Linked DNA regions of Homo sapiens. The protein of the gene in region 1 purifies or fractionates together with the protein of each later gene. This does not show direct contact. Each region holds a gene or a part of one and is shown in the gene's direction. Other genes may lie near its edges.

Region 1 (3,500 bases):
CACTCACCTTCCATCTTTATGTTTTATGTTTTGTTTTTGGTTTTGTTTTTCTTTGAGACGAAGTTTCACTCTTGTTGCCCAGGCTGGAGTGCAATGGCGTGATCTAGGCTCACTGCAACCTCCACCTCCCGGGTTCAAGCGATTCTCCTGCCTCAGCCTCCCATTACAGACCTCATGTGATCCACCCACCTTGGCCTCCCAAAGTGCTGGGATTACAGGCATGAGCCACCGCACCTGGCCTGTTTTATGTTTTATGTTCCCTGCTTTATGTTTTGTCTCATTTTCTGTTTTCTTCTCTCTTCTTTCTTCCTCTTTCTTTTGCTCCTTGTTAGCCTTCCCCCTTCCAAATGCCCAGGGCTCCACTAGAGCAGTTTGGCCCCAGTTGTAGCTCTTGATGCCTCAAGGCCACTGACTCCTCATTGGGTATGTTTTTTCCAGCCTTTGGGATTCTTTTTTTTTTTTTTTTCTCCTTGTGACGGGGCTTTGCTCTTGTTGCCCAGGCTGGAATGCAATGGCTCATGATCTCTGCTCACTGCAACCTCCACCTCCCAGACTCAAACAATTCTCCTGCCTCAGCCTCTGGAGTAGCTGGGGTTACAAATAGGCACCTGCCACCATGGTGGCTAATTTTTGTATTTTTAGTAGAGACGAGGTTTCACCATGTTGGCCAGGCTGGTCTCAAACTCCTGACCTCAGGTGATCCACCTGCCTCGGCCTCCCAAAGTGCTGGGATTATAGACATGAGCCACCGTGCCCAGGTGGCTTTGGGATTCTCGAACAGGGATGACCTCCAGCCAACTCTAAACAGAGAAATCTAAACCTGGGATCTATACCTAGTGTTACATTTTGTTCCCTTAGATTCTATGAACAGGGCTGGAACAGGCTGGTAACAAGAAGAGCTGCTGTGTCTTGTTGTTGTTTTGGTTTTGTTTGTTTGTTTGTTTTTTGAGGTGGAGTGTTACTCTGTTGCCAGGCTAGAGTGCAGTGGCATGATCTGAGCTCACTGCAACCTCTGCCTCCTGGGTTCCAGCGATTCTCCTGACTCCGCCTCCCGAGTAGCTGGGATTACAGGTGCCCACCACCACACCTGGCTAATTTTTGTATTTTTTCTCTTTTTTTTTTTTTTTTTTTTTTTAGGGGGGACGGAGTCTCACTCTGTCTGTCACCCAGGCTGGAGTGCAGTGGCACGATCTCAGCTCACTGCAAGCTCTGCCTCCCAGATTCACGCCATTCTCCCACCTCAGCCTCCTGAGTAGCTGGGACTACAGGTGCCCGCCACCACGCCCGGCTAATTTTTTGTATTTTTAGTAGAGACAGGGTTTCACTGTGTTAGCCAAGAAGATGTCGATCTCTTGACCTTGTGATCCACCCTACTCAGCCTCCCAAGTGCTATGATTACAGGCGTGAGCCACCACGCCTGGCCAAATTTTTGTATTTTTAGTAGAGATGGGGTTTCACCGTGTTGGTCAGGCTTGTCCCAAACTCCTGACCTCAGGTGAGCCACCTGCCTCAGCCTCCCAAAATGCTGGTATTACAGGTGTGAGCCACCACTCCCGGCCTGGAGCTGCTGTGTCGAGGGTAGGCAGAGCTTGGCTGGAAGTGAGTGCTGCCCAGAGAGCCAGGACTCCTGGGCTCCAGCTCAACCCTGCTATGGAAAACCATCCTTGGTCAATGTCTTGCTTTTCCTATTTGCAAATCAGGCAGAACCATAGCTCCTTCCTAGGTCTCTCAGGCCAGGCCAAGAAATGGTAAGGGATGTTTAGAAGATCCTGTGACTTTAAGGTGCTCGGCAGAAAGCCATGTGGGCTACTGGGGAATTCCTCCCTCTGGATGTGGACCACAGAGTATCTGAGTGCAATGGCAAGTATTTGTTCATGTCCTCTACTCATTTGTTGTTTGGGACATTCCTTGACATGACTCTTACTATCTTCTTCAGTCAGGATTCTTTACTTTTTATTGAAGTATGCCATTCTTCAGAGTACATATAATGAAAGTACAGCTTGGTGAACTTTCACAAACTGAACACACCCATGTAATTAGCACTGTCAGAGAGAAACAACGCAGGGCCAGCCCCCAGAAGCTCTGCCCCTGCACCCTTCCCACCTCACCCCACCAAGGGTTTCACTGTCACTATCTAATCACCACTCTTGGGTGTAAGTGACAGAAACTCATCTCCCAAGGACTTAAGCAGAAAGTGAATGCTTCCCTCAGCTGAGGGGTCCATGGGTAAGCCTTGCACAACTGGATCCAAATGCTTAGATGGTGCTGTCAGCTTGCCTGTGAACTTTCTCTGCTGAGTTCTCTTCTGTTGTTGATTTTAAACCTAGGCAGTTTCCTCTTCCCTTGTGATCAACAAAACTCCAGAATTGCAGTTGAGCAGATGTCCCATTCCTAGGCCAATAGTTCTGTGTGGGCTGGGGGGGCAGGGTCAGTGTGTGGAATATAGAGGTGGGTCTGTCTTGGGACACATGACCCTTAGGAGCCGGGAGTGGTGGATCAGCCCCATCTGAGCCACATGCACTTTTGAGTGGGTGAGGGTGATTCCCCAGGGAAAAGCCTAGAGACTGTTATCAGAAGGAAAAACGGGTACTGAGTGGACAGAACCAAGCATGTCCAGTGCACCTGTGCAGTGCTGATCCTCACACTAGTCACCGGAGAACAGGTGTTCGCTTGCGAAAAACCACAATCCAAAGTTCCGGGTTGCTCACAGGCAAGAAGGGAAAGCAAAGTACAATGCAGGGCAGAGTGGGGCATGCCTTGACAGGCACAGAGGAGGTGGCTGCAGGCGAGGCTGAAATGCCTCCCAGTGGGAGTCAGGGCTGCGCACTCATAGCATGGGTGAGGGAGTTGGGAGAGATGGAGCTTGTTTGATGAACACTGATTATTCCCGGCCATCTGAAGCCTGGGATATGGGAGATAAGGCTGGAAAGCTGAAGGTTACTGAAAAGGAGAATGACAGGATCAGATGTGTGGTGTAGGCACCTCTGGGGGCAACTGTACAAGATGGACTGAAGGGAGGCCAGGTGGGGACTTTGCTGGAATCCAGGAGATAAGGATGCAGCCAGGACCAGCATGACCCTCCCGCGGCTGGATGTCCAGGCCATCCACTGGGACACCATCAGGTCCCTTGACCGTCACATAGCCAGATGTGTCTTCAGTGTCCCCAACTTGATTGTCAGCTCTGCCAGGATCGGGATCCTGAGCACTGGCTTTCCTGGATGAATCTTTTGCTGATCTTATCTCTTCTCTATTTTCCAACCTTTATCTGTCATTTATGTTTTTTGTTCTACTTTTCACATCTTTTAAATTTTTCTTTCAACGTTTCTAATATCTAATGCAATTAGCCCCAAGGAAAACTAAGGGAAACAAGAAAAAACAAGAAAGGAAATGTACTCTCAGTACTTCAGCTGTGAGCTGTGAGCTTCAGCTGTGAGCTGGAGTGTTTTGCTCTGGTTTTAGGTTTTTGATTTTTTTTAAGAAAGAGGGTCACACTCTGTTGC
Region 2 (3,500 bases), on another chromosome or scaffold:
TCTCTATTTAACATGTTTAACATTTTCTCTGGCATCCTGAGTAGAATACAGTTATAATAAATATCTTGATATCCTGCCTGCTAATTCTATCATCTGTGCCATTTCTTACTAAGTTCCAATTGATTGATTTTGCTCCCTATTATGAACTGTGTTTTCCTGCTTCTTTGCATAATTAGTGCTGTAGAATCAATGTTTATGTCCTGCCAAAATTCTTATGTTGAAACCTATCGGGGGAACCTGCCCCCGATAATTCAACATTATTTCACGTAGGTTCTTTTCTATTTCCTTAAGTGTCAGCCGGTCTGAGAAATAAAGGGAAAGAGTACAAAAGAGAGAAATTTTAAAGCTGGGTGTCCAGGGAAGACATCACATGTCGGCAGGTTCGTGATGCCCCCTGAGCTGCAAAACCAGCAAGTTTTTATTAGTGATTTTCAAAGGGGAGGGAGTGTACGAATAGGGTGTGGGTCACAGAGATCACATACTTCACAAGGTAATAAAATATTACAAGGCAAATGGAGGCAGGGCAAGATCACAGGACCAGGGCGAAATCAAAATTGCTAATGAAGCTTTGGGCACGCATTGTCATTGATAACATCTTATCAGGAGACAGGGTTTGAGAGCAGACAACTGGTCTGACCAAAATTTATTAGGCGGAAATTTCCTTGTCCTGATAGGCCTGGGAGCGCTATGGGAGACCGGGGCTTATTTCATCCCTTATCGGCAACCGTAAAAGACAGACATTGCCAGAGCAGCCATTTCAGGGACCTACCCCTAGGAACACATTCTTTTTCTCAGGGCTGTTCCTGCTGAGAAAAATAATTCAGCGATATTTCTCCTATTTGCTTTTGAAAGAAGAGAAATATGGCTCTGTTCCGCCCGGCTCTCAGGCAGCCAGACCTAATGGTTATCTCCTTTGTTCCCTGAACATTGCTGTTAGCCTGTTCTTTTCTCAAGGTGCCCAGATTTCATATTGTTTAAACAATTTGTGCAGTTAACACAATCATCACAGGGTCCTGAGGTGGCATACATTCTCAGCTTAGGAAGATGATGGGATTAAGAGATTAAAGTAAAGACAGCATAGGAAATCACAAGAGTATTGATTGGGGAAGTGATAAATGTCCATGAAATCTTCACAATTTATGTTCAGAGATTGCAGTAAAGACAGGCGTAAGAAATTATAAAAGTACTAATTTAAGGAACTAATAAATGTCTGAAATCTTCACAATTTATGTTCTTCTGCCATGGCTTTGGCCAGTCCCTCCGTTCGGGGTCCCTGACTTCCCGCAACAGAAACCTAATCTCCAAGGTGATGATATTTGGAGTTGGGGCCTTTGGAAGGTGATTAGGTCACGAGGGCAGAGCTTTTCTTTGTAAATGGAATTACTGCCCATTATTAAAGACAGTCCAAGAGAGCTCCCTTGTCTCTTCCACCATGTAAAGACACAGCAAGAAGATCATTATCTACAAACCAGGAAATGGGAGTATAGATTGACTGCAGGGTGCATCCCTCTGTTCTCGGTGTTGGCAGGCTCTTGTTCATTGCCTTTCTTTTTCAGTGCACTTAGGAAAGCCATATTATGACAGAATCCACATTAGCAAGAAAATGCAGTCACTTTGCAAAGTAATCAAGCCTGTTTTCCTCTGATTTTAAAACCATTCTTTTCAGGTCATTATCGCATTGTTATTTTGACTTTTTCTTTCCTCAGTCAAAAAGGGTATTATTTGGCAGCTCTGAAGATCTTGAGGCTTTAGTTACAGAAAAATCAAATTCTTAGCAGTGTTATTTTCTGGTGCCAAAATATTCATTTCTGTGATTAAATATAGGAAAAATGGGTAATGAGGCCTATTTCTTTTCCGTATTGCAAGTAAAGCTTAAGATCCCATATTCCTGAAAGGGGCAGAGAAGCCTAGTGTAGGCAAAGGAAGTCTACAGATAATCCACAAACCGGCTTTAAGAAATCATCTCAACTTCCTTCTTGGTTTGAAGTTATTCAAGAGTCTCTAGCAGAAGTCACCGGGTGAATTTTAACTGTTTCTCTTTGTCACCAGTGATGTCATGAATTAGGTGTTGCATTCACTTACTGCTCCTGGCTGTTGATGAGACCTAGGATAAGAGTGGGGCAGGGAGGGTCTCTCAAGCCAGCCTGACCCCCGGAGGTCTCACAACCCACTAAGACTATGAGTCAGGTTGATATGAGGTCCCTATCTGTTGTAGAATCCATGGTAGGGAGTGAACTCAGGTTGACTCCACTGGGGAAAATTCCCCATGACGTAGGCAGGTCCAGCTGAGCTTTCTGCGGTAAATTCTCCTTCTCTTTCTCCTCTTTTTTCATCTCCACTGAGGAAGCACAACCCACACAGCTGTCATGACCAGGTGCTGACCTGCACTCTCACCTGTGTAGTACCGCAGTGTCGCTGGCATTCCATGAAGCACAGGGTGCTTCCATATGTGCCCTGCTGCAGTTCCCCTCCACACCTAGGCTCGGTACCCACACACCTTAAAACATGCCGTCGTTCCAGTTTGCAGGGACTGGACCCCCAAAGGCACGCTGAGCCGTGACCCCACTCAGTGCTTCCTGAGCTGTCTAAGCCACTGGGACCTCAGTGGACTTTAACTGTGGTTTAATAAACCAAGGGGTTCTGTCTGTGTCCAATGTGAGAGGTGGACCGCTCATTTCACAGCTGTGGATTTTCCCTTTCTGTCTCCCCAGAAATTGCAGGTGCTGCAGTGTCTGAAATTTCCGGGCCTTTCTCAACAGAGGATGTAGCCAGCAACTGTGTCCCCGCTCAGTCTTTGAGCGAGCCCATTTTGTGGATTGTGTCCTATGCGCTCATGAGCGTCTGTGGAGCCATCCTCCTTGTCTTAATCGTCCTGCTGCTGCTGCCGTTCCGGTGTCAGCGTCGCCCCCGTGACCCTGAGGTCGTCAATGATGAGTCCTCTCTGGTCAGACATCGCTGGAAATGAATAGCCAGGCCTGACCTCAAGCAACCATGAACTCAGCTATTAAGAAAATCACATTTCCAGGGCAGCAGCCGGGATCGATGGTGGCGCTTTCTCCTGTGCCCACCCGTCTTCAATCTCTGTTCTGCTCCCAGATGCCTTCTAGATTCACTGTCTTTTGATTCTTGATTTTCAAGCTTTCAAATCCTCCCTACTTCCAAGAAAAATAATTAAAAAAAAAACTTCATTCTAAACCAAAACAGAGTGGATTGGGCTGCAGGCTCTATGGGGTTCGTTATGCCAAAGTGTCTACATGTGCCACCAACATAAAACAAAACCAAGCCTTGGCTCGTTCTCTTCTCTCTTCAATCTCTGGAAAAATAAGTACATATAGTTGATAACCCCTCTTAGCTTACAGGAAGCTTTTTGTATTAATTGCCTTTGAGGTTATTTTCCGCCAGACCTCAACCTGGGTCAAAGTGGTACAGGAAGGCTTGCAGTATGATGGCAGGAGAATCAGCCTGGGGCCTGGGGATGTAACCAAGCTGTACCCTTGAGA
Region 3 (3,500 bases), on another chromosome or scaffold:
TTGTCTTTATATTATTGAGTTGTAAAGAGTTATTTTACTAGGCCCTTAGCAGATATATGATTTACAAGTATTTTCTAAGAGGAATTATTTTAAATTTTGAGATTAAAAACAAATTTTTTTAGAATACTCTGTTCTGATCCACAAAGTGGTACTATACTGTGACCAGTGTTGTCATAACTGGCTTTTTCTTTTGTATTTAAGGGATGAAGATGCCCCTGCTAAGATTCCAGATGAAGAGGCCACAAAACCCGAAGGCTGGTTAGATGATGAGCCTGAGTACGTACCTGATCCAGACGCAGAGAAACCTGAGGATTGGTAAGAACTTCAGTTAACTTTTTTTAATTACCTGGTTTTTTTGTTTGTTTTTTTTTTTGAGATGGAGTCTCACTCTGTCTCCCAGGCTGGAGTTCAGTGGCGCAGTTTCGGCTCACTGCAACTTTCACCTCCTGGGTTCAAGTGATTCTCCTCCATCAGCCTTGCGAGTAGCTGGGATTACAGGTGTGTGCCACCACACCCGGCAAATTTTTGTATTTTTTGTATTTTTAGTAGAGACGGACTTTCACCGTGTTGGCCAGGCTGGTCTCAAAGTCCTGACCTCAAGTGATCTGTCTGCCTTGGCCTCCCAAAGTGCTGGGATTACAGGCGTGAGCCACCACACCCAGCATAAGTTACCTGTTTTTATTGAAGTCAATCTTAATACTTAAATATAGCCAAGTTCCCTAATTTCAGGGTAGAATTTGACAATTTTAATTATATTTTCTTCTTTTTTAAAAAATAAATTTTTCCTGAAAAACTGTTATTACTGGAAATACAGGAGAAGCTGGTCTGGGATACTGTGAAAACATTTCAGCAGGATCTTGGCAGCCCTGGGCCAGCCAGCTGTTCATAGTCCTGCATCACAGAACCTGTTTATAATTTGTTGTTTGTACCTCCGTAGGGATGAAGACATGGATGGAGAATGGGAGGCTCCTCAGATTGCCAACCCTAGATGTGAGTCAGCTCCTGGATGTGGTGTCTGGCAGCGACCTGTGATTGACAACCCCAATTATAAAGGCAAATGGAAGCCTCCTATGATTGACAATCCCAGTTACCAGGTTTGTGCCTCTTGATGGTTGAGTTGCTTTCATTAATCTGTTTGTATTCAGATAGAAGTTTTATCTAGAGTAAGGCTGCCAGGTTGGTCATTATATTCAAGCTGTTGAATTAAAAGCAGAAAGTAGACTTCCTAAGTTGAAAGAGAGCTTAATGGGTTAGGTATTGCAAAGATAAACCTAGAAACTGGAGTGAATAACTTTCTTTAACTTTATTTATTTATTTATTTATTTATTTATTTTTGAGATGGAGTTTCGCTCTTCTACCCAGGCTGGAGGGCAGTGGTGTGATGTCGCCTCACTGCAACCTCTGCCTTCCGGTTTCAAGCGATTCTCTTGCCTCAGACTCCCGAGTAGCTGGGATTACAGGTGCCTGCCACCACGCCTGGCTAATTTTTATATTTTTAGCAGAGATGGTGTTTCACCATGTTGGCCAGGCTGGTCTCGAACTCCTGACCTCGCGATCCGCCCACCTCAACCTCCTAAAGTGCTGGGATTACAGGCGTGAGCCACTGCATCTGGTCAACTTTCTTTTTTTGAGACTGAGTCTCACTCTAGTGGCCAGGCTGGAGTGCAATGGCTCAGTCTCGGCACACTGCCACCTCCACCTCCTGGGTTCAAGCAATTCTCCTGACTCAGCCTCCCGAGTAGCTGGGAGCACAGGTGTGCTCACAGGTGTGCTCACCTCACCTGGCTGATTTTTTGTATTTTTAGTAGAGACGGGGCTTCGCCATGTTGGCCAGGCTGGTCTCGAACTCCTGACCTCAGGTGATCCACCTGCCTTCGCCTTTCGAAGTCCTGGGGTTTCAGGCGGGAGCCACTGTGCCCAGCCAAGAATAACTTTCATAGTTGCTTTGTAACTATATTTAAAAACAAAAGAGAAATGGAAAACTGTTGATTTGGGTACCCTGCTCTTGGGTGCTAGGGTTGCTTCAGCCATAGGATCCACAGCTGAGTCTGGACAATCTGTGATGTGGTGGGTAGAGGACTGTGGTTTGAGTCAGCATCTTGACTACATCAAGTCAGCTCACTGCTTGGCCTCAATGCTTGCAACTATAAAAAGACTGAGGCCCAAAAGAGATGGTAAGGATACAAGTAGTAAGGTTGTGAGGCTTTAGGCCTCATGCAAAAATGTACACCCTCAGACCTTTGTTCCTTTTATCTTTCTAGCCAAGTAAAATTATTTATAATCTCTACAAAGAGTGGCAATTAAAATTATTTATAATCATTAATTTCTACTTTATTTATATACAAATACTAATATATGTATATACATATACAGAAACAGGAGAAGCTGGTCTGATACTGTGAAAACATTTCAGCAGGATCTTGGCATAGTATATGTATATATACATATACTAATATATGTTTTTCTGTTTGTAAATTTTTTATTTTTTTCCTCATAGTCGTTAAAGATGTTATGTGAATGTATTTTTAATTGTGTAGTCAAACAATAAGATAAAAGTTTTACTTTAAAAAAGTTGCCCTTTAGGCTGGGCGTAGTGGCTCACGCCTATAATCCCAGCACTTGAGAGGCTGAGGTGGGTGGATCACCTGAGGTCAGCCATTCGAGACCAGCCTGGCCAACATAGTGAAACACCATCTCTACTAAAAGCACAAAAATTGGCCTGGTATGGTGGCACACACCTGTAGTCCCAGCTGCTTAGGCACGAGGCTGAGGCACAAGGATCACTTGAACACAGGAGGCAGAAGTTACAGTGAAAAAGAAGTTGCCCTTTAGTTGTTCTCCTGTTGGTGGCCATTTAGGTGGATTGTCACTTTTGCTTTCAGAGTCACTGCTGCTGTAATAATCCTTGTACATGTCTGGGTGTATGTTGTGAGTATTTCTCTAGGTAGTTATCTAGAAGTGAATTGCTGGTTGATGATCATGTGCGTTTTATTTTAAATCACCACTGAAGAAGTACGTACTGACTTATGCTCCCACTCTCATTAGCAGTTGCTAAGAGTGGAGGCTGTTGAATGGGCCAGGAACTTGAGGGGTTGGTTTGGACCAAGGTCATGGGTGACAGTAGAAATTGGAAGTAGTTGGAATCCTGCAGTCTTAGAGGCAGAGTGCGTAAAATAATCTGTAGCATTTGTTATTTATTTTCCTGTTGCTTATTTCAAGTTTCATGAAGTTGGCATTTCTCTCCATTGTTCATGCAAAATTTCTCTTACGGTAGATTCACCATAAACTTTTGTTGATCATTATCTGAAATGATTTTCTGAAACATTTTTTTTTCTAGGGAATCTGGAAACCCAGGAAAATACCAAATCCAGATTTCTTTGAAGATCTGGAACCTTTCAGAATGACTCCTTTTAGTGCTATTGGTTTGGAGCTGTGGTCCATGACCTCTGACATTTTTTTTGACAACTTTATCATTTGTGCTGATCGAAGAATAGTTGATG
Region 4 (3,500 bases), on another chromosome or scaffold:
ATCATGCCCAGCTAATTAAAAAAAAAAATTTTTTTTTGTAGAGACGTGGTCTCACTATGTTGCCTAGTCTCGAACTCCTGGCCTCAAGCAATCTTCCCGCCTTGGCCTCCCAAAGTTCTGGGATTACAGGTGTGAGCCACCACGCCTGGTCTGCTTATTATACCTTTTCAACAAGATTTTATACTGTTGAAATTACTTTTTAGTGCTTTGGGATTCTTTTACAATATGGTCAAAATATTCACTAACTCATCTCATAAGTTATACTAATATTTGATATTTGTTAATTTTGGACTACCTGAGAGTTCTTGTATGGAGCATTTGAATTACGTTTTAGAATTGTATTTTGAAGGCTGGGTGCGGTGGCTCACACCTGTAATCCCAGTACTTTGGGAAGCCGAGGTGGATGGATCACCTGAGGTCAGGAGTTCAAGACAAGCCTGGCCAACATGGTGAACCCCTGTCTCTATTAAAAATATAAAAATTAGCCAGACATGGTGGCGAGCACCTGTAATCCCAGCTACTCGGGAGGCTGAGGCAGGAGAATCACTTGAACCTGAGAGGCGGAGGTTGCAGTGAGCCAAGATTGCGCCACTGCACTCCAGCCTGGGCGACAAGAGTGGAACTCCATCTCAAAAGACAAAACAAAACAAAAGAATTGTATTTTGAAGTTATTTTGATAGATTTTGAAATATTTGGGGGATTTTTTTGATATTTAAAGAAATACACTTTTATAATATCATCTTACATGTAAATCTTAAATACCCTGGAGGCATCAGGCATTATGCTTGTTCTGGTACATAATGTTAAGCTTTTGGCTGTACACTTTTTTATGTCTTTGCAAACTCCCCCCCCCTTCTAACAGCATAACTTTTCTACTGCCATTAATCAGATTAAATAGTATAAAACTATGCTGTAGTCTTTGTTTAGAGGATTTATCTTCATGTTGTGAGTCTCCCTTTGAAGCAGCACAAAAAGACAGTGCTTGTCCTCCTCCTGCTTTTTTTTTTTTTTTAAGATGGAGTCTTGCTTTTATCACTCGGGCTGAAGTGCAATGGCACCGTCTTGGCCCACTGCAACTCCGCCTCCTGGGTTCAAGTGATTCTCCTGCCTCAGCCTCCCAAGTAGCTAGGATTACAGGCGCCTGCCACCATGCCCAGCTAATTTTTGTATTTTTAGTAGAGATGGGGTTTCACCATGTTGGCCAGGCTGGTCTCGAACTCTTGACCTCAAGTGATCCGCCCACCTCGCCTTCCCAAAGGTCTGGGCATGAGCCACTGTGCCCGGCCATGCTGCTGCTTTTTAGTAAGTGTCCTGACAAGTGCCAAAAGTGGAAACCTGGCTTCATTTTGAAATTGATGTTTTTGGCTTCAGGTTTCTCTTATCAAAGCTGGGAAGACTGCAACCTGTTTTAATAGCATTGTACAGTATTACAATGTAATCTAGTACATTTTGAGGTTTTTGACTTAGGTATTACAAATATATTTAGAACATAGGCTATTTCTCTTCCCGTTTGGTAAACCTCTCATCTGCAAAAACACAACTAATATTAAAGTACAGTGTATTGCCAACAAGGATGTTTCTGGTCACTTTTAAGAATAACATTTTAAACAACAACAAAAAAATTTACTTATTTTTAAACTTAATGCATTGTATTTGATTTACATATTCCTTTAATGGAGAAGTTCTTAAATTGGAGTGAACAGAGCTGAGAAACTTTGTGAATTCTCTGCAGTTGTGTGTTTTCTTGGGGAAAGAGGACAGAACTTTCATTAGATACTCAAAGCATTTAGTGAATCAGGAAGGTTAAAAATTACCAAACAGGAACTGTTTGTTTTAGCTTAAGGTTTTCGTCTTTTCTTTTTCCTTCCTGAAAATTAACTACAGAAAATTCCAGGTTTCCAGGGTTGTAGCGAGTTGAATTTTAAGTGATTTGAGATACGAAGTCCACATTTCTGTGGCCTGTCTAGAGGTTCTCATCTTGCTAAATGACATTTAGAAGCAGCATAACTGCTTCTAATCTAGGATTACCACACATCTAGGATTCTAACAGTTTTCATCCATTCATCAAATGTTTACTGAGCACATGCTCTGTGAGAGGCCCTTTACTAAGTACAAATTCACTGAAGAACATGTCTGTCTTCAAGTTCATTCATTTTAGTTCTGTGTGTCAAAGCTCATATAGTAAACTACAAAACTAAATTATGTTGCTGTTCTAGAATTTTTTTTTTTTCTCTTCTGAGACAGAGTCTTGCTCTGTTACCCAGGCTGGAGTGCAGTGGTGCAATCTATGCTCACTTCAACCTCTGCCTCCTGGGTTCAAGCGATTCTCCTGCCTCAACCTTCTGAGTAGCTGGGATTACAGGCACTCACCACCACACAGGGGTACTTTTTGTATTTTTAGTAGAGACAAGGTTTCGCCATGTTGGCCAGGCTGGTCTCAAACTCATGACCTCATGTGATCCACCCACGTTGGCCTCCCAAAGTGCTGGGATTACAGACATGAGCCACCCTGCCTGGCCTGTTCTATAATTTTTTGATGTCATATATTTCAGGCTGGCATTTGGCAGTCACTCAGTACAATGACATTACTCACATTAAGAATACATAATTTACCTAACCCTGGCAGGTGTGGTGGCTCATGCCTATAATCCCAGCACTTTGGGAGGCTGAGGCAAGGGGATTACCTGAGGCAGGGAGTTAGCGACCAGCCTGGCCAACATGGTGAAACTCCATCTCTACTAAAAATACAAAAATTAGCCAGGCAGGGTGGTATGCACCTGAAATCCCAGCTACTCGGGAGGCTGAGGCAGGAGAATCACATGAACCCAGGAGGTGGAGGTTACAGTGAGCTAAGATCATGCCACTGCACTCCAGCCTGGGCAACAGAGCAAGACTATCTCAAAAAAAAAAAAAAAAAAAGAATACATAATTTACCTTATTAAGTAAGCTAATATTATTTATTAAAGTAAATTTACTTATTAAATAAATTTACTTAATACATTTACTGTATTAATTAAGTAGATTACTGGCTTTATTAAGTAAATTATGTATTCCCAGTGTGGTAATGTCATTGCCAAGGGAGTGAAACTTGGTTCTGGGCGTGGTAGTGAAAGAATCGTACTCTTGGCCGGGCGCGGTAGCTCACCCCTGTAATCCCAACACTTTGGGAGTTGAGGCGGGTGGATCACGAGGTCAGGAGATGGAGACCATCCTGGCTAACATGGTGAAAGCCTGTCTGTACTAAAAAAATACAAAGAAATTAGCTTGGCGTGCTGGCGGGCTCCTGTAGTCCCAGCTACTCGGGAGGCTGAGGCAGGAGAATGGCGTGAACCCGGGAGGCGGAGCTTGCAGTGAGCCCATATCGCGCCACTGCACTCCAGCCTGGGCAACAGAGTGAGACTCCGTCTCAAAAAAAAAAAAAGAATCTTACTCCTCTTATGTATAAAAAGGCACACTTACAGTGTACAAACAAATATGTATATTCCATCATATTAAAATTT
Region 5 (3,500 bases), on another chromosome or scaffold:
CTCAGTTTGTATCACTTGAGTGATCTTCTGTCCTTTCAGAGATATCATTTACCTTTATAGCTTCGTCTGTCACCTTCATGAGATTAATTTTCAAATTTCTAGGCAGGTCTTGTTTTTCCACCTCCAGAAACATATTTAACTATTGGCTAGAAATTTCAACTTGGCTATCCCATATCATTTAAAACCAAACTTAACAAAAATGAAAGAAAACCAAATTATCAACCTTTCCCCAAAACTGACTTCCTTTTCTGACTTTCCTGCCTTTGTTTATTTATTTATTTATTTATTTAAATTTTTATTTTTTTAATAGAGAAAAGATTTTGCCATTTTGCCCAGGCTGGTCTCAAACTCCTGAGCTCAGGTGATCCACCCGCCTCAGCCTCCCAAAGTGCTAAGATTACAGGCATGAGCCACTGAGCCCAGCTGTTTCCTACCTTTATTAATGGTTTCAAAAGTTGGTTTCCAGACTCAAAATGAGTTGTTATTGAAACTTTTCTCCATTATCATTCATATCCAGTTTGTCACTAGGGCCCACTTCAAATGTTATTTTTGTCTTTGCACTATCACTCCATACTATATTTTAAACTTCTTGAGGACAGAGACAGTATATTATGCTTCCTTACATTCTTGCAATTTTTAACCAGTAACATATACATGATATATTGAAAGATTTTAACTTGAATGAAGTGAAGGAATCAGGGTTCCTTCTTTCTCCTTTTCTCAAAGGTACTGCTAAAGTCAGACAGCCCAACAGGTGATGTTTTACTGGATGAAACTCTGAAACACATCAAAGCAACTGAACCCACAGAAACTGTCCAAACATGGATAGAGCTACTCACTGGTAAGATGACTTAAAATAATATATGAATTTCACACTTTGTTATCTTTATCCTACCCTGAAATTTAGTAAAAGATGTACCGAAATTCATCGTGCTGGATGAGATAGATGTGGTTCACTATTTAATTCTAATGAGGGACAGAAAAAGCATGGTTAATTGATACCTAAAGTTTTCCAAAGCTTCACCTTATCTTCTGCCACCCCACCCCAAAAGCCCTTAAATAGTATTCTTCACAAGAAACTTTTAAAACATCTTTATTGAGAGGACAATGAGAATATTGGCATTGATGCAGTCTATTATTCTTATTAGAATTTCCCAGTTTTAATTTGCCAAATAATATTTTATTGCATGGCCATACCACATTTGTTTATCCAGTCATCAGTTGATGAATCTTTGAGTTATTTCCACATTTTGGGTATTGTGAATAATGCTGCTGTGAACACGCACGGACAAGTTTTTGTTTGAACATGTTTTCATTTCTTGTGGGTATGTAGCTAGGAGTAGATAACTGGGTCATATGTAAATCAACGAGTAACATTCTTACTGTGGTAAAATATACATAACATTTATTATTATTATTATTATTTCGAGATGGAGTCTTGCTCTGTCGTCCAGGCTGGAGTACAGTGATGCAATCTCAGCTCACTGCAACCTCTGCCTCCCGGGTTCAAGCAATTCTCCTGCCTCAGCCTCCCAAGTAGCTGGGATTACAGGCACGTGCCACCACGCCTGGCTAATTTTTGTATTCTTAGTAGAGACAGGGTTTCACCATATTGGCCAGGCTTGTCTCGAACTCTTGACTTCGTGATCTGCCCGCCTTGGCCTCCCAAAGTGCTGGGATTACAGGCGTGAGCCACCGCGCCCAGCCAACATTTATTATTATTTTAGCCATTCTTAAGTGTACAATTCTGTGAAATTAAATATATTTGCAATATTTTGTAACCGTCACCTCTATCTATACTATACCCAAAGCTTCCTCATCATTACCCATTAAAACTCTGTACCTATTAAATGATAACTTCCTCTTTCTCTCTCCCCCCAGTCCCTGGCAACCTCTATTCTACTTTCTTTTTCTATGAATTTGCTTACTCTAGGTACCTCATATAAGTAGAATCATACAATATCTGTCATTACTTTCCCTAGCTTATTCACCAAGCATAATGTTTTCAAGGTCCATTCATGTCACAGCATATATCAAAATTTCATTCCTGTTTATGGCTGAGTGATATTCCGTTGTATGTATATAACACTTTCGTTTAACCATTCATCTGTTGATGGACACTTGCCTTGTTTCCACCTTTTGGCTATTGTGAATAATGCTGCTGTGAACATTGATACACAAATATCTGTTCAAGTTCCTGTTTTTAATTCTTTTGGATATATACCTAGGAATAGAATTGCTGGGTCATATAGCAGTTTTATGTTTAACCTTTTGAGAAATCACCAAACATTTCCACAGAGACTGCACCATTTTATATTCCCACCAGTATGCACCAGGGTTCCAATTTGTCCACATGCTGATCACCACTTGTTCTTCTCTTTCTTTTCTTTTTTTTAATTATAGACATCCGAGTAGGCCTAAAATGTTATCTCATTGTGGTTTTGATTTTTATTTTCAAATGAAAATAGTTTTCATGTCATTCCTAATGACTAAAAATATTGAGCATATTTTTATGTGCTTACTGACCATTTATATATCTTCTTTGGAGAAATATAAAATACTTTTCCCATTTTTAAGTTTGATTGTTTTGTTGTTGTTGAGGTTTTTTTGTATTTATTTATGAGATGCGGTCTCACTCTGTCACCCAGGATGGAGTGCCGTGGTGCAATCTCGGCTCACTGCAACCTCTATCTCCCGGGCTCAAGGATCCTCCCACCTCAGCCTCCCAAGTAACTGGGACTATGGGTGCGCACCATCACACCTGGCTAATTTTTTGTGTTTTTGGTGGAGATGGGGTTTTGCTATGTCACCCAGGCTGGTCTCTGAACTCCTGAGCTCAGACAGTCTACCCATCTTGGTCTCCCAAAATGCTGGGATTACAGGCATGAGCCACTGTGCCTGGCCAGAGGTTCTTTATATATATTCTGGATATTAATCTTGCCGAGACCAGCTCAGTTGTGGAGACCCTAACCCAGTGGCGCTAGAGGAATTAAAGACACACACACACAGAAATATAGTGTGGAGTGGGAAATCAGGGGTCTCACAGCCTTCAGAGCTGAGAGCCTTGAACAGAGATTTACCCACATATTTATTGACAGCAAGCCAATCATAAGGTTTACTAAAAGTATTCCTTATGGGAAATAAAGGGATGGGCCGAAATAAAGGGACGGGCTCTGGCTAGTTATCTGCAGCATGAACATGTCCTTAAGGCACGGATCTCTCATGCTATTGTTTGTGGTTTAAGAACACCTTAAGCAGTTTTCCGCCCTGGGTGGGCCAGGTGTTCCTTGCCCTCATTCCAGTAAACCCACAACCTTCCAGCATGGGCATCAAGGCCATCACAAGCATGTCACAGTGCTGCAGAGATTTTGTTTATGGCCAGTTTTGGGGCCAGTTTATGGCCAGATTTTTGAGGCCTATTCCCAACACGTCCCCCTTCTTTGTTTTACAAAGCAATAAAAGCAAAGGCAGCTTTGTCAAGGTGAGCTACTTCTCACAGA
Region 6 (3,500 bases), on another chromosome or scaffold:
AAGCAATCACAATTGATCAAGAGGTGAGTCTCTGGTATAGTTTTGAGAAAAGGACAAAATGAATTGGAAGTTAAAAGGGAACTTTTTTTGAAGAAGAATCATTTATCCAATTCACCATTCAACAAGCATTAATGAAACAACTTTTATTTGGTAGACACTGTATTAAGTGCTGTGGCTATAACAGTAACCAAGCCCCTGACTTAATGAAACTTGTGGTTTAGTGGAGAAGATGAACATTGAACAAATCATTCTAAATATGGTGGGTCTTATGGAGGAAAAGTACAATGTACGGTGGAATAGCATATTAGGAGGGTCTAATTTAAGTAGAGTGCTGAGAAATAATTAGATGTTAACTGGGACCTAACCTGATTAGTTTTCAGAAATTTGACTATGATGCGTCTTGGTGTGGATTTCTTTGGGTTTGTCCTGTTTGGAGTTTATTCAGCTTCTTGAATCTTTGGGCTTATTCCTTTTGCCAAATTTGGAAAGGTTTTAGTTTTTATTTTTTTGAATACTTTTTCAGCCCTGTCCGGTTTCCTCTTCTTCTGGAACTTTGATGATGTGAATGTCAGATCTTTTGTTATTAGTCCCCCAGGTCTTTGAGACTCTGTTTTCAATTTATTTTCTCTCAATGGTCAGTGGAGGCCTGGTAGGGAACCTCGAGTTCTACCTCCACTTGGCGGTAACAAGGTAGAGACTTCCCACTAACGCTCTTTCCCTGCTGGGTTAGTGGGAAGTAGTATCAAAAGAAGCCAGCTAAAACAGAAAGCTTAAATAAGATCGTAGGAGCACAACAGTGCAAAGAAAGCATGCTGAGCCCATGAATAATCCAGAATCTCATAATGCAATACCTAAAATGTCCAGCTTTCAACTGAAAATGACCTGTCATACCGAGAATCAGGAAGATCTCAAACTGAATGAACTGTTGTTCACATTGAGTAATTTCTTTTCTTCTGTCTTCCACTTCACTGATTCTTTCCTATGTCCCCTCTTCCAATGCTGACCCCGTCCATTGCATTTTTAGTTTGTTCTATGTACTTTTTCAGTTTTAAAATTTCCATTCAGTTTTTCTTTATATCTTCTAATTTTTTTTACTGAGACCTTCTCCTTTTTCATTTGCTTCAAGCATATTCTTAGTTATTCACTGAAATATTTTTACAAAGCCCGCTTTAAATTTTGTTAGATAATTCTGACACCTCTGTCATCTTGGTGTTGGAATCTATCGATGGACTGTTTTCATTCAGTTTGAGATTTCTACAAGACCTGGTAGGATCTATTAAGGTATTAGACTGTTGTTCTTTTCCCCCCAAGTCTGTTATGTAAAGCCACTGCAAGGTTTTCAGACAAAAGAGAGGTATGATTGCATTTACATTTTAGAATGATCAGAAAGGTGGCACCTGCAGAAAGTGACAAAATACTGTCCCTCCCTTCCCTATCCGGTATCTCATTTCCATTTTTTTGTTTGTTTGTTTGTTTGGTTTGTTTTTGAGACGAAGTCTCACTCTGTCGCCCAGGCTGGAGTGCAGTGATGTGATCTCGGCTCACAGCAACCTCCGTTTCCCGGATTCAAGTGATTCTCCTGCCTCAGCCTCCTGAGTGGCTGGGATTACAAGCTTGAGCCCCCACGTGTGGCTAATTTTTTTGTATTTTTAGTAGAGACAGGGTTTCACCATGTTGGCCAGTCTGGTCTCAAACTCCTGACCTCAAGTGATCCACCTGCCTTGGCCTCCAAAGTGCTGGGATTACGGGCGTGAGCCACTGCACCTGGCCTCATTTCTGGTTTTTTTTTTTGAACTTGTCAAAGGAAAGATAATAAAGGGTGAAGGGCTCAGCAGAAAACTAACAATGTGCTATGCAGAGGGTTTTTATTTCCATTTGGCTATCTAGTATCACTTCAAATTTTACATGTTCAACACAGAATTCTTCCTCTTCTCTAATCCTGTTACATCACTGATGTGCACAGCAAGTGAAATGGAAAGCAAGATTTCTCTTCTTCTCTTGTTCTTACTTCTGATCTCCTTTTTCCTAGCCATTCAGCAAAGGGGAATTGTAGCTTAGAGAGTCTTAGCCCCAGCATCATAACGTTGAGTAGAGAAGGATGGTTGTTTCTGAGAGACAGGGTGGTAACAATTGGCACATCTAGTGATAGCTACCTTCTCAATCTCTTGCTACCCCAAATGAAAGCACCTTTGTATTATCTCTTCATGGACCTGTTCGTGAATTTCTCTGAAGTGTACACTCAGGAGTGAGATCCCACAAGTAGGCCCATTTTTTTTGTTTGTTTTTGAGATGGAGTCTCACTCTGTCGCCAGGCTGGAGTGCAGTGGCACGATCTCGGCTCACTGCAACCTCCGACTCCCAGGTTCAAGTAATTCCCTTGCCTCAGCCTCCCGAGTAGCTGGGGTTACAGTTGCCCGCCACCATGCCTGGCTAATTTTTTTGTATTTTTAGTAGAGATGGGGTTTCACCATGTTGGCCAGGCTGGTCTCGAACTCCTGACCTCAAGTGATCCGCCTGCCTCGGCCTCCCAAAGTGTTGGAATTACAAGTGTGAGCCACCATGCCCGGCCAGTTATACTATATATTAAGTAGTGTTTAAGTTCTGAGAAATTCAGTGCTCTTAACCATATGGTATTCTGTAGTATAAAGCTACTTAATATAACCCCTATTTTATTATTTTTATTTTTTAAATTGATGTCAATTATAAAATTAATAAAGCCACATAACAGAACTTTGGAAGATAGGAGGAAAAATACTCATCTAAATCTACCAGGTTGCTATAGCTACTTTTACCATTTTATTACATTTCTTTCCAGTCTTTCCACATGCATATAGTGTCCATAGCTGTAACTGATGTATAAATAATATTGTACATTTTCTCTTAATATTTTGTCATAATCACTACCTGATATATTATGGTTGTTGAAGAATTGCTTGTTGAATGAGCATTATATTGCAAGAATGTTTTCACTATCTTTGTAAACATAAATTTTAATAGCTGTATAATTGTCCATGAGCTAGATGTAGCCTAGTTTATTTAATCATTTCCCTATAATTGGATATTTTGTAGTTTTTGAAACAGTTTTTACTAAAACTGCAATTAACATTTTCATGAATGGAGCTCTACCTCCCAACCCCCACCAGCTGGAGTGATAGAAGTAGGTATACTGATATTGAGTCAAGGGATATGAAAATTCTTGATCCATGTTGCTTTTCAAAAGAATTATACCAATTTACAGTGTTATTGACAATAAATGAGAGTGGTTCATGTTTATGAGTTTTTCTAGCTCATATCTGTGACTTCTGTTTTCTTTTTCTGGGTTTCTTTTAGATTCTTGTGTTTTACTTTTTGCGATGTCTTCTGGCTTTTGTGAGCTGTATTTGTGAACTTTACTTTTACAAGTGAGTATAAAAACTTTGCTTCTAAAAGTGCTGTGAGGAAACCCATTATTGCATAGATTATCTGTTGTGATAGTCTAGGCAGTGATTAGAAATAGAAAA
Region 7 (3,500 bases), on another chromosome or scaffold:
CAATATTACTTCCAGCTTAGAGACTTGGAACAAAGCTAGGAAAGATTATATTTGAACTCGTCTTGAAGTACAGATAGAATGTTGAAGACAGTAGGGTGAAAGGACATTTTAGACGTTGTGACAGTGGTGCTGTAAGAACAGAAAACTAGAAAATAAAAAGGAAGAGGCCAGAACAGAAAACTAAAAAATAAAAAGGAAGAGGCCCTTAATGCCAGACTAAAAAGTTTAGACTTTATTCTGTAGGCAGTTGTGATTATTGTTATGTCCTACCTTGTGTTGGTTGTGGCATGTACTTCGAAAGGAGAAGCATTGAGCAGCCATATATTAATATACTTAAGTAAATAGGAATTTGCATAGATATGGGGGTGAGGGACATCATAAGCAGTTGTTTCTCCCATTCTCAAGTATAATGGCTGTAGAGCTCTGGTCAGCCCACTATCAAAATCAGAGCATATTGGAACCTAATAGGACATTTTGAAATGGCCCTATTGGCTTCCTTTCTCACGTCTCAACTCCACCCAAGATTAAAGTATTTCAATCTTTTTCCCCAAATGCTGCAGTGGTAGAAACATTCATTTTGTCTGCTCGGGCAATGCCCATTTCATCTTCAATATCAGATGTGATATAATAAATATCTTTATGAAATAATTGAAAAAACTAGGCATTTGGGGGAACACCAAGTAAACTGTAGAAATAATGAGAAAATATTACTAGAACAGAATAAATTAATTTTTTGTTATACTTACAACACTTTAAGATGGTATCAAAAAAATTAAATGCTGAAAAAGATTAGCTTGTATTTTGTAACTATAAAAGAGTGAAGCTGACTCGTTATGAGTCCCAAAACAGAGCTATTTGGTATTATTTTTTATTTGAGAAGTAATGGAGCATTTTATTGTAAAAAATGCAGTTTAAAACAAAATTTTATCTTTAGGAAATGTATCTAGTGATTTTAGAATGTTTTAGTTCAATACATTGGTTATTCCTCTATTTCTGGTTGGGAAAAAAGCTTTACCCATGGAGTTAAGGGTAGTTACATTATTTAGAAGATTATCTTTAAAGCGTATATCAAAATGATAACTATAATTTATTTAAATTGGTCCCTTAGTGATGAATCCAGATGACACATTTGAGGTGTTAGTTGATCAAACAGTTGTAAACAAAGGAAGCCTCCTAGAGGATGTGGTTCCTCCTATCAAACCTCCCAAAGAAATTGAAGATCCCAATGATAAAAAACCTGAGGAATGGGATGAAAGAGCAAAAATTCCTGATCCTTCTGCCGTCAAACCAGAAGACTGGTAAGCAAATAATTCGGTAGCAAAGCATTATCTGGCATAACTAGGTAATGAAACAACATATAAGTGAAGTTTACAACCCATGAAGTTTATTTTTTTAAACATCAGAACTACTTATTTTTAGTATTTTGGGTGAAATATTTTCTAAAATGGATTTTACACTTCCCTCCCTGTAATTTTTTTTTATTTCTATTGATAATTATGTTGCATTTTTTAATATATATTTATTTTTTATGTTTTCAATGCTGTGGATTAAAAATTTCATAAATCCAAAATACCAGTGCTTTAATTTTCATTCCTAGTTTGATCTTTATTGTATGTGTGTGAGAGTCCGAGGTGGGCAGATCACCTGAGGTCAGGAGTTCGAAACCAGCTTGGCCAACATGGCGAAACCCCGTCTCTACTAAAAACACAAAAATTAGCGGGCATGGCGGCGGGTGCCTGTAATCCCAGCTACTCGGGAGGCTGAGGCAGGAGAATTGCTTGAACCCAGGAGGCAGAGGCTGCAGTGAGCCCAAGGTCGTGCCACTGCACTCCAGCCTGGTGACAGAGCAAGATTCTGTCTCAAAAAAAAAAAAAAAAAAAAAAAAGAGTATGTTTGCCCTTAAATGAGAGAAACCACATATAACTGCTTCATTCTGATTGTTGAAATGTGTTAGAATTTGTTTTACAAAGTACTAAAAGAAATGCTCCATTAAATTTTAACTTTTGGTTACTCTGAGCACTCAGAAACTCAAGATGACATTGGTATCAGGCAAGCACAAATCTATACATTTGTAAAGTTGATTATTTCTGTTTATTTTGTAACTCATTTGGAAAATCATGAAGTGTCCTCTTGTTTAAAATTTCTATCTTTCTGTAATGATGAAAATTGTATTAGTAGTTCAGTACTTTATGTTTATATACTTCAGAATTTACTAAGTGTTTTGTTTTTGTTTTTGTTTTTGTTTGAGATGGAATCTCGCTCTGTCACCCAGGTTAGAATGCAATGGCGTGATCTCAGTTCACTGCAGCCTCTGCCTCCTGGGTTCAAGGGATTCTCCTGCCTCAGCCTCATGAGTAGGTGGGATTACAGGCAAGCGCCACCACGCCCGGCTAATTTTTGTATTTTTAGTAGAGATGGGATTTCACCATGTTGGTCAGGCTGGTCTCGAACTCCCGATCTCGTGATCCTCCCGCCTCAGCCTCCCAAAGTGCTGAGACTACAGGCTTGAGCCACCACGCCAGCCTAAGTGTTCTTTTTAAAATAAGAATGCTAGAATTAAATAAGGAGAGTTTTAAAAATTATATTGGAATAGGGAAGAACTTTCCAAATATGACATAAAATCCAAGAATCCTTTAAAAATAAGTTCAACTACATGAAAATAAATGATTTGTATATTGCAAAAAAAAAAACCTCCCTAAACTATTTCAAAAAACACACAAGAACCAGGAAAAATTATTTTCAATCATATAGCTGACAGAGAGCTAATTTCTTAGTATAAAGGTAATGAGCTAAGAAAAAATAGTTTTTGTGTATCACTTATGCTACTAAATGTACATTCAAAGTTCAGTGAGATACCATTTTTCACCTACCACATGGGCAGAAATCAAGAAGTTTGGTAACACTCTTCGCAAGGACAGGAGAAAATAGGTACTTTTGCATGCTGCTGGTAGAACCGGAAGTGGAGTGTAACCATTATAGAGAGTAATTTGGATGCTACTATCAAAATTTAAAATGTCCATACTCTTAACAATTATATTTTCACAGATGAGAAATGGCATATATTCTAGGACATTCACTATGGCATTGTTTGTATTAATAATAGTAAAATTTTGGAAACACTAAATGTCCTCCAAGAGGAGATAAGCTAAATAAATTATGGTGTATCCTCAAGTAGAAAACTATGCAACTGTTAAGAATGAAGCTATGTGTATATATATATATGTGTATATATATATATATACATATATATATATATACATATATATATATATATGTATATATATATGCTCCAGCCAGGCATGGTGGCTCATGCCTGTAATCCCAGCACTTTGGGGGGCTGAGGTGGGTGGATCACCTGACGTTAGGAGTTCAAGACCAACCTGGCCAACATAGTGAAACCCCATCTCTACTAAAAATACAAAAACTTAGCCAGGCGTGGTGGCAGGTGCCTGTAATCCCAGCTACTCTGGAGGCTGAGGCAGGAGAATTGCTTGAACCCG

Evidence for each region.
Region 2: the proteins of CHST6 (region 1) and BACE2 purify together in Homo sapiens (affinity purification with mass spectrometry; 2 studies listed by BioGRID and IntAct, with this or other methods). This does not show direct contact.
Region 3: the proteins of CHST6 (region 1) and CANX purify together in Homo sapiens (affinity purification with mass spectrometry; 2 studies listed by BioGRID and IntAct, with this or other methods). This does not show direct contact.
Region 4: the proteins of CHST6 (region 1) and GOLPH3 purify together in Homo sapiens (affinity purification with mass spectrometry; 2 studies listed by BioGRID and IntAct, with this or other methods). This does not show direct contact.
Region 5: the proteins of CHST6 (region 1) and GOLPH3L purify together in Homo sapiens (affinity purification with mass spectrometry; 2 studies listed by BioGRID and IntAct, with this or other methods). This does not show direct contact.
Region 6: the proteins of CHST6 (region 1) and ALG9 purify together in Homo sapiens (affinity purification with mass spectrometry; 2 studies listed by BioGRID and IntAct, with this or other methods). This does not show direct contact.
Region 7: the proteins of CHST6 (region 1) and CLGN purify together in Homo sapiens (co-immunoprecipitation; one large-scale study listed by IntAct). This does not show direct contact.

The regions. Positions count from the first base shown.
Region 1 is NC_000016.10:75,485,442-75,488,941, reverse strand, and holds part of CHST6 (carbohydrate sulfotransferase 6), read left to right. Parts: intron 1-3,500. UniProt on the Homo sapiens protein: Sulfotransferase that utilizes 3'-phospho-5'-adenylyl sulfate (PAPS) as sulfonate donor to catalyze the transfer of sulfate to position 6 of non-reducing N-acetylglucosamine (GlcNAc) residues of keratan.
Region 2 is NC_000021.9:41,272,660-41,276,159, forward strand, and holds part of BACE2 (beta-secretase 2 isoform A preproprotein), read left to right. Parts: intron 1-2,711; coding exon 2,712-2,965; 3' UTR 2,966-3,500. UniProt on the Homo sapiens protein: Responsible for the proteolytic processing of the amyloid precursor protein (APP).
Region 3 is NC_000005.10:179,719,467-179,722,966, forward strand, and holds part of CANX (calnexin isoform d precursor), read left to right. Parts: intron 1-201; coding exon 202-315; intron 316-937; coding exon 938-1,094; intron 1,095-3,337; coding exon 3,338-3,500. UniProt on the Homo sapiens protein: Calcium-binding protein that interacts with newly synthesized monoglucosylated glycoproteins in the endoplasmic reticulum. It may act in assisting protein assembly and/or in the retention within the ER of unassembled protein subunits.
Region 4 is NC_000005.10:32,164,320-32,167,819, reverse strand, and holds part of GOLPH3 (Golgi phosphoprotein 3), read left to right. Parts: intron 1-3,500. UniProt on the Homo sapiens protein: Phosphatidylinositol-4-phosphate-binding protein that links Golgi membranes to the cytoskeleton and may participate in the tensile force required for vesicle budding from the Golgi.
Region 5 is NC_000001.11:150,659,155-150,662,654, reverse strand, and holds part of GOLPH3L (Golgi phosphoprotein 3-like), read left to right. Parts: intron 1-726; coding exon 727-841; intron 842-3,500. UniProt on the Homo sapiens protein: Phosphatidylinositol-4-phosphate-binding protein that may antagonize the action of GOLPH3 which is required for the process of vesicle budding at the Golgi and anterograde transport to the plasma membrane.
Region 6 is NC_000011.10:111,865,082-111,868,581, reverse strand, and holds part of ALG9 (alpha-1,2-mannosyltransferase ALG9), read left to right. Parts: intron 1-3,330; coding exon 3,331-3,401; intron 3,402-3,500. UniProt on the Homo sapiens protein: Mannosyltransferase that operates in the biosynthetic pathway of dolichol-linked oligosaccharides, the glycan precursors employed in protein asparagine (N)-glycosylation.
Region 7 is NC_000004.12:140,396,649-140,400,148, reverse strand, and holds part of CLGN (calmegin precursor), read left to right. Parts: intron 1-1,108; coding exon 1,109-1,298; intron 1,299-3,500. UniProt on the Homo sapiens protein: Functions during spermatogenesis as a chaperone for a range of client proteins that are important for sperm adhesion onto the egg zona pellucida and for subsequent penetration of the zona pellucida.